2 separate regions of the Homo sapiens genome follow, and region 1 is linked to region 2. The links come from fine-mapping of genetic effects on gene expression. A gene starts in region 2. The other region holds a variant in brackets. All regions are shown on one strand. Distances are between the middles of the regions. Region 1 overlaps SLC13A3 (solute carrier family 13 member 3). Region 2 holds the start of ZNF334 (zinc finger protein 334).

The links. PIP is the estimated chance that this variant, and not a neighbour inherited with it, causes the effect. A credible set is the group of variants that fine-mapping cannot tell apart.
Region 1: its variant is the best candidate, but not a certain one, in a credible set for the expression of ZNF334 in ileum (GTEx, PIP 0.89).

The regions. Positions count from the first base shown.
Region 1 is chr20:46,587,235-46,591,635 of GRCh38, forward strand. It overlaps SLC13A3 (solute carrier family 13 member 3), which reads right to left. Exons shown (of 13, transcript NM_022829.6): 7 at 1,926-2,021; 8 at 825-929. Among named protein-coding and RNA genes, the nearest start is that of OCSTAMP, 39 kb to the left of the region's middle. RefSeq lists an enhancer at 1,750-1,839. The variant A/T (reference allele first, on the strand shown) is at 2,560.
Region 2 is chr20:46,511,810-46,516,210 of GRCh38, forward strand. ZNF334 (zinc finger protein 334) reads right to left here and starts at 1,750. Exons shown (of 5, transcript NM_001353824.2): 1 at 731-1,750; 2 at 273-331. The coding sequence starts at 293. RefSeq lists a silencer at 1,790-2,024.

The DNA of each region.
Region 1 (4,401 bases), 75 kb after region 2:
ACTCATTTACCTTTACAACAAGTCAATGAAAAACGTACTAGTATAATATCATTTTACAGATTAGGAAACTGAGGCACAGAGAGGTTGAGTACCTTACAACCCTCCAATGGCTGCCCACTGCTCACAGAAAAAAAACAAACCAAAATGCATAACATGCCCGAAAAGACACTCTGATCTGGCCCTCCCCTACCTTTCCTCACCCGCTTTCCTTCCTTCCCACCAGGCCTCGCTCCCACTGGGCTTTTCTCATTTTCTCAAACATGCTACGTTTGTTCTGACTCAGGCTTCAGTAGACATTCCCAGGGCATCTCCACTGCTTTCATCTGCAGTCTTCCTAAGCTTTGGCTCTTCCCAGAACTGTCCAAAGTCAATGCCCCTGCTCTATTATTTTATAGCATAACCCTCTCAGTCTTTCCTTCATAGCACTCATTGCAATGCAGTTGTTTTGTTGTCTAACTACTTGCTTTTGTCTGTGTCCCAGCATCCAGCATCCAGCTTAGCACATAATAGGTTCTCAATCAATGTTGATTGAATGAATGAACGATTTGCTCAGTCACACAGCTCGTAAGTGGCAGAGCTAGAATTCTAACCCAGTTTAGTCTGACTCCAAATCCAGAGCTCCCAACACATGAGAAGTCATATTTTATCACCCAAACCTAAACTCTTTTGAGAGTGAAAGAGGGACCTATTAATAATCATATGGGACAAAAGATGGAAACTTGGATGCGTGTCTCCCCAGCTGCACTGCCGCCTCTCCAGCTCCAGGTGGCCCAGCCCAGAATCCTCCCTGTTGGACTCCTCCCTGTGGGTCCCCAGAGTCTCACCCAGGATTGAAGAGGCTGGCCCAGCCAGGGATGAACTTCGGGTCCCGGGTGAAGAGGAGGATGGCAAACATGCAGAAAAGGATGAAAACAGCCTGTTCGGCAAACCTGTGGCACAGACATGCAGGCATGATGGTGACCCCGGGTTTCAGGCAGACCGCAGCAGGCACAGGCTCAGGCAGCTGCCCACTGGGAGTGACTGGGCCCGGGCTCTGCCTCTGAGAAAGCTGAAGTCATCCACTCCCCAGGGAGTGCCCAGAGTGAGGGGAGGGGTGCCAATGGACTGTAAATGATTCCTGTCCTAGGACTTCCACGATCCCTCAGGATCCTTCCTGAGCCTCAAGCCACCCCCTCCCCGAAATCGCGTGTTTCATTATCACCAGGAGTTTACCAGGGTCCTACGGAAAATCAAGAAAGTGAGAAACAGAGACAGAGTCCGAAAAGCAGAGAGGAAGAGAAACAGACAGAAATGCAGTAGGCAAAGAGAAAGAGGAGCATTCATACAGAGAGAGAGAGAGACAGAAAAACACACAGTCTGTCTACACCGAAAGGAGAAGACACAGAGAGGGGACAGACCTGGAGAGAGGGTGGATGAAGGTGGAAAGAGAGGATCCCCAAGAGTTGGAGGAGACAGTTACCCAATGTACCCATTTCACAGACTGGAGAGCAGGGCCCAGAGAGGGTTAGTGCCATGACCAAAGCCACACAGGACATGAGTGGCACAGCTGGTCCTTGAACACAGGCCTACTGAACCCGTTATTTTCACCATATGGAAATGTGCATTAAACAAGGTCCCGGAAGTCACCTGAGATAGTGTCAGGTATTCTGCGTACCGGGAGGGAAACGGTGCCTTGGGTGGAAGGTAGCAGATCCCACTGTAAGTACACTCTGAGGGGCTTTTTGGTCCTCAGGTTTCTACCCCAGCACCACGGCAAGAGGTTGACTGTGTAAACCACCTCCCATCCTCCATCTCTAGGCTCCCACGCCACGGGTCCTGGAATTCCCCTGGAGCTCAGCCCCCATGGGCCCAAGGCCAGGCCAGGAGGAAGCTCTCCTGAGCGTTTAATACTCAGCTCTTTCCTTAACCCAAGGGCCCCCACATACTTGATGGGCCCCAGGTTCTGGTATTCTTCCCGAATTACAGCTCGAGCCCTATCTTCTGCATTGGTTCTTATCTCAGATTTATTCTTCCTCCAGCCCCTGAAACAGAAAGTGGGAGATTAGGAGTGGCCACTGCAGGTATAACTAACTTCTCACCTACAACAAGCACCACCACCTGACCAAGCCACATCCTCTCTGTCCGGGAGGCTGCAACTGCCTGATAGCTTGTCTCCCTGCAACTGTCTTCCTTTGCTACAGTTGTTCTCCCCACGTATAGCCTGGTTGATCTTTGAAAATGTGAATCTGATGATATGACTTCCAGGCTTAAAATCCATGAGTGGGTCAAACAGGCACATGAATAAACACAGGAATCAATGGAACAAAACAGAAAGTCTAGACACAGACTCAATCACAAATGGGAATTTAGTCTATAATAAAATTGCTATCTCAGATTGGTGTGGAAAAGATGGGCTATTCAGTAAATGGTATCAGACATATAGATCAATGGAACAGAGTTGAGAGCCCAGAAATAAACCCATCCATCTATGGCCAGTTGATTTTTGACAGGCGTACCAAGACTGAATAGTGGGGGAAGGAATAGCCTTTCAACAAATGGTGCTAGGAAAACTGGACAGCC[A/T]TGTGGAAAAGAATGAATCTGGACCCCTACCTCACACCAAATACAAAATTAAACCCAAAATGGATTGAAGACCTAAATGTTAGAGCTAAAGCCATAACACTCTCAGAAGAAAAGGCAGGGGTAAATTTTCATGTGCCTTGGAATAATATGGTTAGAGTTAAAACCATAAACCTCTCAGAAGAAAGGGCAGTGGTAAATTTTCATGCCCTTGGAATAGGCAACAGTTTCTTCAATATTACGTCAAAAACACAAGCCATCAAAGATAGATAAATTTGACTTCATCAAAATAGTAAAATGTTGTGTGTCCATAAATGGTGTTAGGACACTGGGTGACCATTTGGGACAAAAAAAAGTGAAGTTGAATCCAAACTTCACACTGTACCATAAGGATGAACTCCAAATAGATTAGAGGTTTAAATGTAAAAAAAAATAATAATACTAGAAGAAAACATATGATTATTCTTTTATAAGTCCTGTATTAGGAAAACCTTTCTAAACTGTAACTGAAATTTCAGAAACCATATGAGAAAAGATTGAAAAAAAAATTAAAACAATTCTGCAGGGAGAAAAGCACCATAAGCAAAGCCAAAAGACAAATCAGGAAAAAAAATGTAGCTTCTATTGTAGAATAAGCACTCATCTTTCTAAAATATAAAGCATACCAGAAACTAGTAAGAACAAGACCAAAAACCCATTTGAAAAAAATGTATAAAAATATGAACACACAGTTTCACAATTCACAGGAAAGAAAATACCTATGAACAAACTTTTCATATGCTTCCAAACCTATGAAAAGTTGCCCAAAATTACTGTTCATAAAATAAACACAAGTTATTTTTCTCTTATCAGATTGGCAAAAATCCACTTTGCTGCAAGGAAGCAGACACTCTCATACATTGTTCATGGGAGAGGAAACATGTACGATTTTTATGAAGAATGATTTGATAATATCTATTAAAATAAAAATGTGTTTATTCTCTGATCCAGAAATCCCACTTCTGGAAATGTATCTTATAAAAATGCTTGCTTCCTTTGAGCTACAGCTGCAAGGTAAAAGAGAAAAAAATAATAAAATAAAAATTAAAAAACAGCTGGGCTTGGGTGGCTCATGCCTGTAATCCCAGCTGTTTGGGGGGCCGAGGTGGGTGGATCACTTGAGGTTTGAGACCAGCCTGGCCAACAGAGTAAACCCCTCTCTCTACCAAAAAAAAAAAAAGGCACAAAAAATTAGCTGGGCAAGGTGGCAAGAGCCTGTAGTCCCAGCTACTCTGGAGGCTGAGGCAGGAGAATGGCCTGAACCTGGGAGGTGGAGGTTGCACTCCGACATGGTGCCACTGCACTCCAGCCTGGGTGACAGAATGAGACTTTGTCTAAATAAATAAATAAATAAATAAATAAATAAACAAACAAACAAAAATCTGTCACGGAGGCCAGTCACTAGAAAAAGATATCTATGTCTGCTCATATTTGCTTAAGAAAACTCTGGAAGGTTACACAAGAAACCAATAAAAGTGGATGCTTGTTTGGGAGGATATCGTGGCAGAAGAGGCCCATGGTTGGGAAGAGGGGTTCTCACTGCATACCTCTTAGCGCTGTTTTGATTTTTGAGAAGCATATGTATGTATTGCCTATCCAAATTAAGGTAGCCATATTAAAAAGTAATTGAAGTAAGCAAAATAAATATAGGAAAACAAAGTGCCAGTATTATATTTTGGCTAGTTATCATTTCTGGCTCAAGTCTCTGGGTCTGAAGCTTGCTCTTTCTTCGTTTAGAGGTTGATTTGGAAATGTTAGATATTAAGGTTTCTTTAGCACCCAACTGAGACTTTCTCCTCAACGTAA
Region 2 (4,401 bases):
GATCATCCAAGAAAATTTTTAGATATAAATGATGGGAAAACCACACAAAAATCCAGTGTAAGGGCTATCTCATATTGTCTGGGCCTTTCTGGAACCATTTGAGTAACTCTATAGGAATATATGATTTCTGTATATCTATGTCCACTTTTCCAGTATTGATCGAATACTCTTCTCTGATGCTGAATTTTATACATTTCGTTTCATCTGCAAACTACTCTAAACCTCTTGAAATTCACTGTATAATGTGAGAAGTAAATCCCTGAGCAACTTACCTGAAATTTTTTCATTTTCATGTTCTCTTGAGAAAGGGCCAAGAGTGTTGAAAGCAGAGCTGGGTAAGGAAGAATGGCGAATGGAATCATGAGCGATTTGGCTCACACAGCAGCTCTACAATTACCTACAAAGCCACACACCCATTTAAAAACATGGCCCTTTGACCAGTCTGGTTCAGGAAGCAACATGTTGAGGAAACGTTCACTTGTCCATTTATAGTTCTAGAATGGTCTCATAGAGCTTTTCTTACTGAGTGAGTGTCAACAAATGTTTTCTACTGAATTACTGTCAATCTATGCCTCCTTTGAAAAAAATTGAAAACGTCTGAGTCCAATTAATAGGAGACTAGGTCAACGAAAGTTAGTATATACAAAGCCTGGAACACTATTTTGGCATTAAAATGGACTCTAGGATTAAAAGATTTCTTGGAATAGGAAAATGATATTATGTCACTTACCTGTTTTCCTACTAATGTGTTTAGCCACTTGAGATGACAGAATCCAGAGAGAATGAATGAAAGTGCTTTAAGGTGTTTGTCTTTTTGACAGTTTGGTTTCCCTTAGCTGCAGTTTCACAAGAGGACCTTTTACTAAGAAACTTCTTGTGGTAGGTAACGTAAATGTGGTAGATGACAAAAGCCCTGACCTGGTACTCAAAGGACCAGAATTCAGTTATTGGATCTGTCACTAGCAAACTGCATTACTGAAAAAAATATTTACTAAGTCGTAATTTTAATATAAGATAAATTGGTTTTTAGTCTTTCCTTTACCCCTATCGTGTAGCTCTGTAAGGGGTAAACTCAGTAAATCCCAGGTGAGGTGATGAACATGGTTGGTGCAGCTCTGAATAAACAGAGGGTGGAGATGGTAGGGAATGACATGTATGTGTTTAGGAAGTGATGAAGACATCATTTCCTTATTTATAACCAGTACTCCTTCCCTCCAACCCAGGACTCTCGCAGATACCTCCAGTGAAGTGTCTTTTCCTGTCAAATCTTGACCCTGCCCATTCCAGCTCACATCCTTCTTCCGAAAGTTGAACTGAACTTTGCTGAGCTATAATAATCAATGGCTGCAAGACTAAGTGCATCAGCAGAAGTTCTGGAAAGAGGTTCTAGCTACTTGGATGCGTAAACCTTTCACCTTCACCAAGCGCCTTCTTCGGGCAAATCAGGGCCCTAGAGAGAGCTCGCCCGTGGCCTGCAGGTCAGGAGCCCAATCCTGCCCTGGCTGCCTCGCCTCCCGACCACAGGAAACCCTCCCTCCAAAGACAGGGAGAGCGCGCGTCCACCCTCCGCAGACCCGAGGCCCGCTCCGCCCGGCCCCACCGTTCCCTCCGACGCCCGAGTGCTCAGAGCTCGCCGCCAGCCCTTCCTATAGGTTGTGGGTGCACCCGCTTCGCCTCCAGTTCGCACCAGGTCCAAGTCTCGGCGGGACCAGGGATTCACGGGCTGCAGGACCCTCACCCGGAAGAGCCTGGCGAACCGGAAGGGCGTCCAGGTAAAAAACAGGAACAGCACATGCGCAGAAAGGCCCCCGGGCCGCCTTTCCCGGGGCTCTCCCGGGCCCCCCGCCGGCTTTCCGGACCACAGTCCCCAGAAGGCGTCGCGGCCACCGCCCTACCCTGAGGGATCTTTGAGGAGCTTCTGCTTTAACTACAGAGTTTAGGTGACTGCTGTGAATCATCAATACGAAAAGTAAAGTTTCATATCCGTTTCACCGAAGTCTATAGATGAGAAAGGAAAATTCTGCGAAATGAAAATGACTGCTAAAGATATTCCAGCAGAATATAATACTAACGACCTGCAGAAAATTTCTCCCAAACAGGATACAAAATCATTGCTGGCTTTCAATACGTGAAGGTTGAAAATAAATCAGAATATCTCTGAAGAAAATGAACTATTAGCCGTAACCCCAATTCCCAGAGATATCCGAGTTTAACATTAGGTGCACATTCTTCTGACAGCTTTACAAAGAGGAACTCATATAGGTCTAGTAATTTGTTATTTTTTAAATTAGCAATATAGTTAATATACTTTAATACCACGAATTATCTCATATACATTGTGAGTAATATAGAAAATAGTTTTACATCCACAAGGAAAATACATACAATCATGCATGGTTTAACGATGGGGATACACTCTGAGAAATGTGTCTTTAGGCAATCTCGTCTTTGTGTGAACATCATGGAGGGTTCTTACACAAATCTAGACAATATAGTCTACTACACACCTAGGCTGTATGGTATAGCCTATTTCTCCTAGGCTACAGGCCTGTGTGGCATGTCACTGTCCTGAATACCATATGCAATGGTAACACAATGGTATTTGTGTATGTAAACATATCTAAACATAGGGAAGGTGCAGTAAACGTACAGTATTGTAATCTTATGAGACCACAGTTGTATATGCAGTACATCGTTGACTGGAACATTCTTATATTATGCATGACTGTATATGAATTGTATACATATTGAATAAATAGAACTTTATAAAACTTTACTCATTGGAAGGCATGAAAGTTTCTGACAAAGTTATAATGTATTATTATTCAATTCCAGAAAAGAACAATTAGCGACTGGTGGTAGCTAGTCTTCAAAGATGGCCCCCAATGAACTAAACTTCCCAGTATTCCAGGCTTGTATATTTCCCTCCCACGTTGACTTTGACTGACTCTGTGACTCTCTTTAACCAAAAGAATGCGTCAGAAGTCACACTGTGCCAGTTCCAGAAATAAGCCATACAAAGTCCTGGCAGCTTCAGCTTTGCCCTTTGAAGAGTCCTTAGACGCTGTGTAAGACATGCAGTTAACCTGTTAGACCAAGTGGAGAAACCAGGAGAAGTAGGAAGTGAGAGGCCCTGAGACCACATGGAAAAAGAGAGGCCCATCTTTCCTAGCAATGCAGCTATCCCAGCCTTCCAGTCATCCTTGCCTAGAGACATCAGACATATGAGTGAACATTCTAGGCCAGTGAAGTTCCTGGATGACTTCAGCTCCAGATGAAATCATATAGCTGATGCCAGTAAACATACAGACTACAAGAAATAATGAATTTTATTATTTTAAGCCTCTAAGTTTTGGGTGGTTTGTTACACAGCAATAGCTAGCTAAGCACCAACAAAAGATGATTTCCAAGAATATAATATGAAAAGCTGCCATTTCAAATCATTGAGAAAGGCTTATTGTTAAATAGATTATTGAAAAAGTGATGTGGGACAACTCACTAACCATTTGGAGTAAAAAACTAAGATTCCCATCTCACACATTATAATCAATATATTTCACATTGACATATAATTTGAAATGTTAAAAGCAAACTCACAGACTAAGTGATTTTTGCATTACTTGCTAGGGAAGCTCTTTTACTGAAATTTATTAAAGCAAAGTTTCCTAGTCATCAAGAAAATTGAATATATTTCTATTCATTCAAGTTTAGATAGTCTCAAATGTTTTGCTACTTTTGTAATTGGGAACATTTTTCTATCTTATTTTCATTGCCATGTAAAAGTGACACTGTAGAGAAAAGTATTGATCAATTTGGCTATGAAAAATTGAAAAAATCTTGCTTCAGAAAAAAATAGATTTAAAAAGAAATAAATGGAGAAAATAAAGTGGTTTCATATATATGAGAAGGATTGGAAATAGACTCAATTTATTAACAGCTCTTAGAAATCAGTAAAGATGAGGATTCAAATTTGTTTAAAAAATGAAAAAAGAACATGAATAAGACAATTAATATAGAAGAATTGTAAAAGAGCCATAACTATACATATGAGGTAATGGCCAATAATACTCTAGAGCAAAGAAATGCAAAAAGTTTTTGATTACGTACTTTTTTGGCAGACTAATTTGGCAAAGATTAAACGGAATAATAAAGTATTGGCATGAATTTGGAAAAAATATTTGTTCCCAGACAGGTTGGGTGGGAGTATAATTCCTATGACATTTCTAGTAGACATTCTGTACCAAAATTGAAGATTGCATGTCCTTTATTCCAGCAACTCAGCTTCTAGGAACATCTTAATCAAATAATTAAATCAGTACAAAAAGATGCATATCAAGAATGTTCCTCGTAATGATTTTAATCATAATCTTTTTTTTTGTAGATGGAGTCTTGCTGCAATGC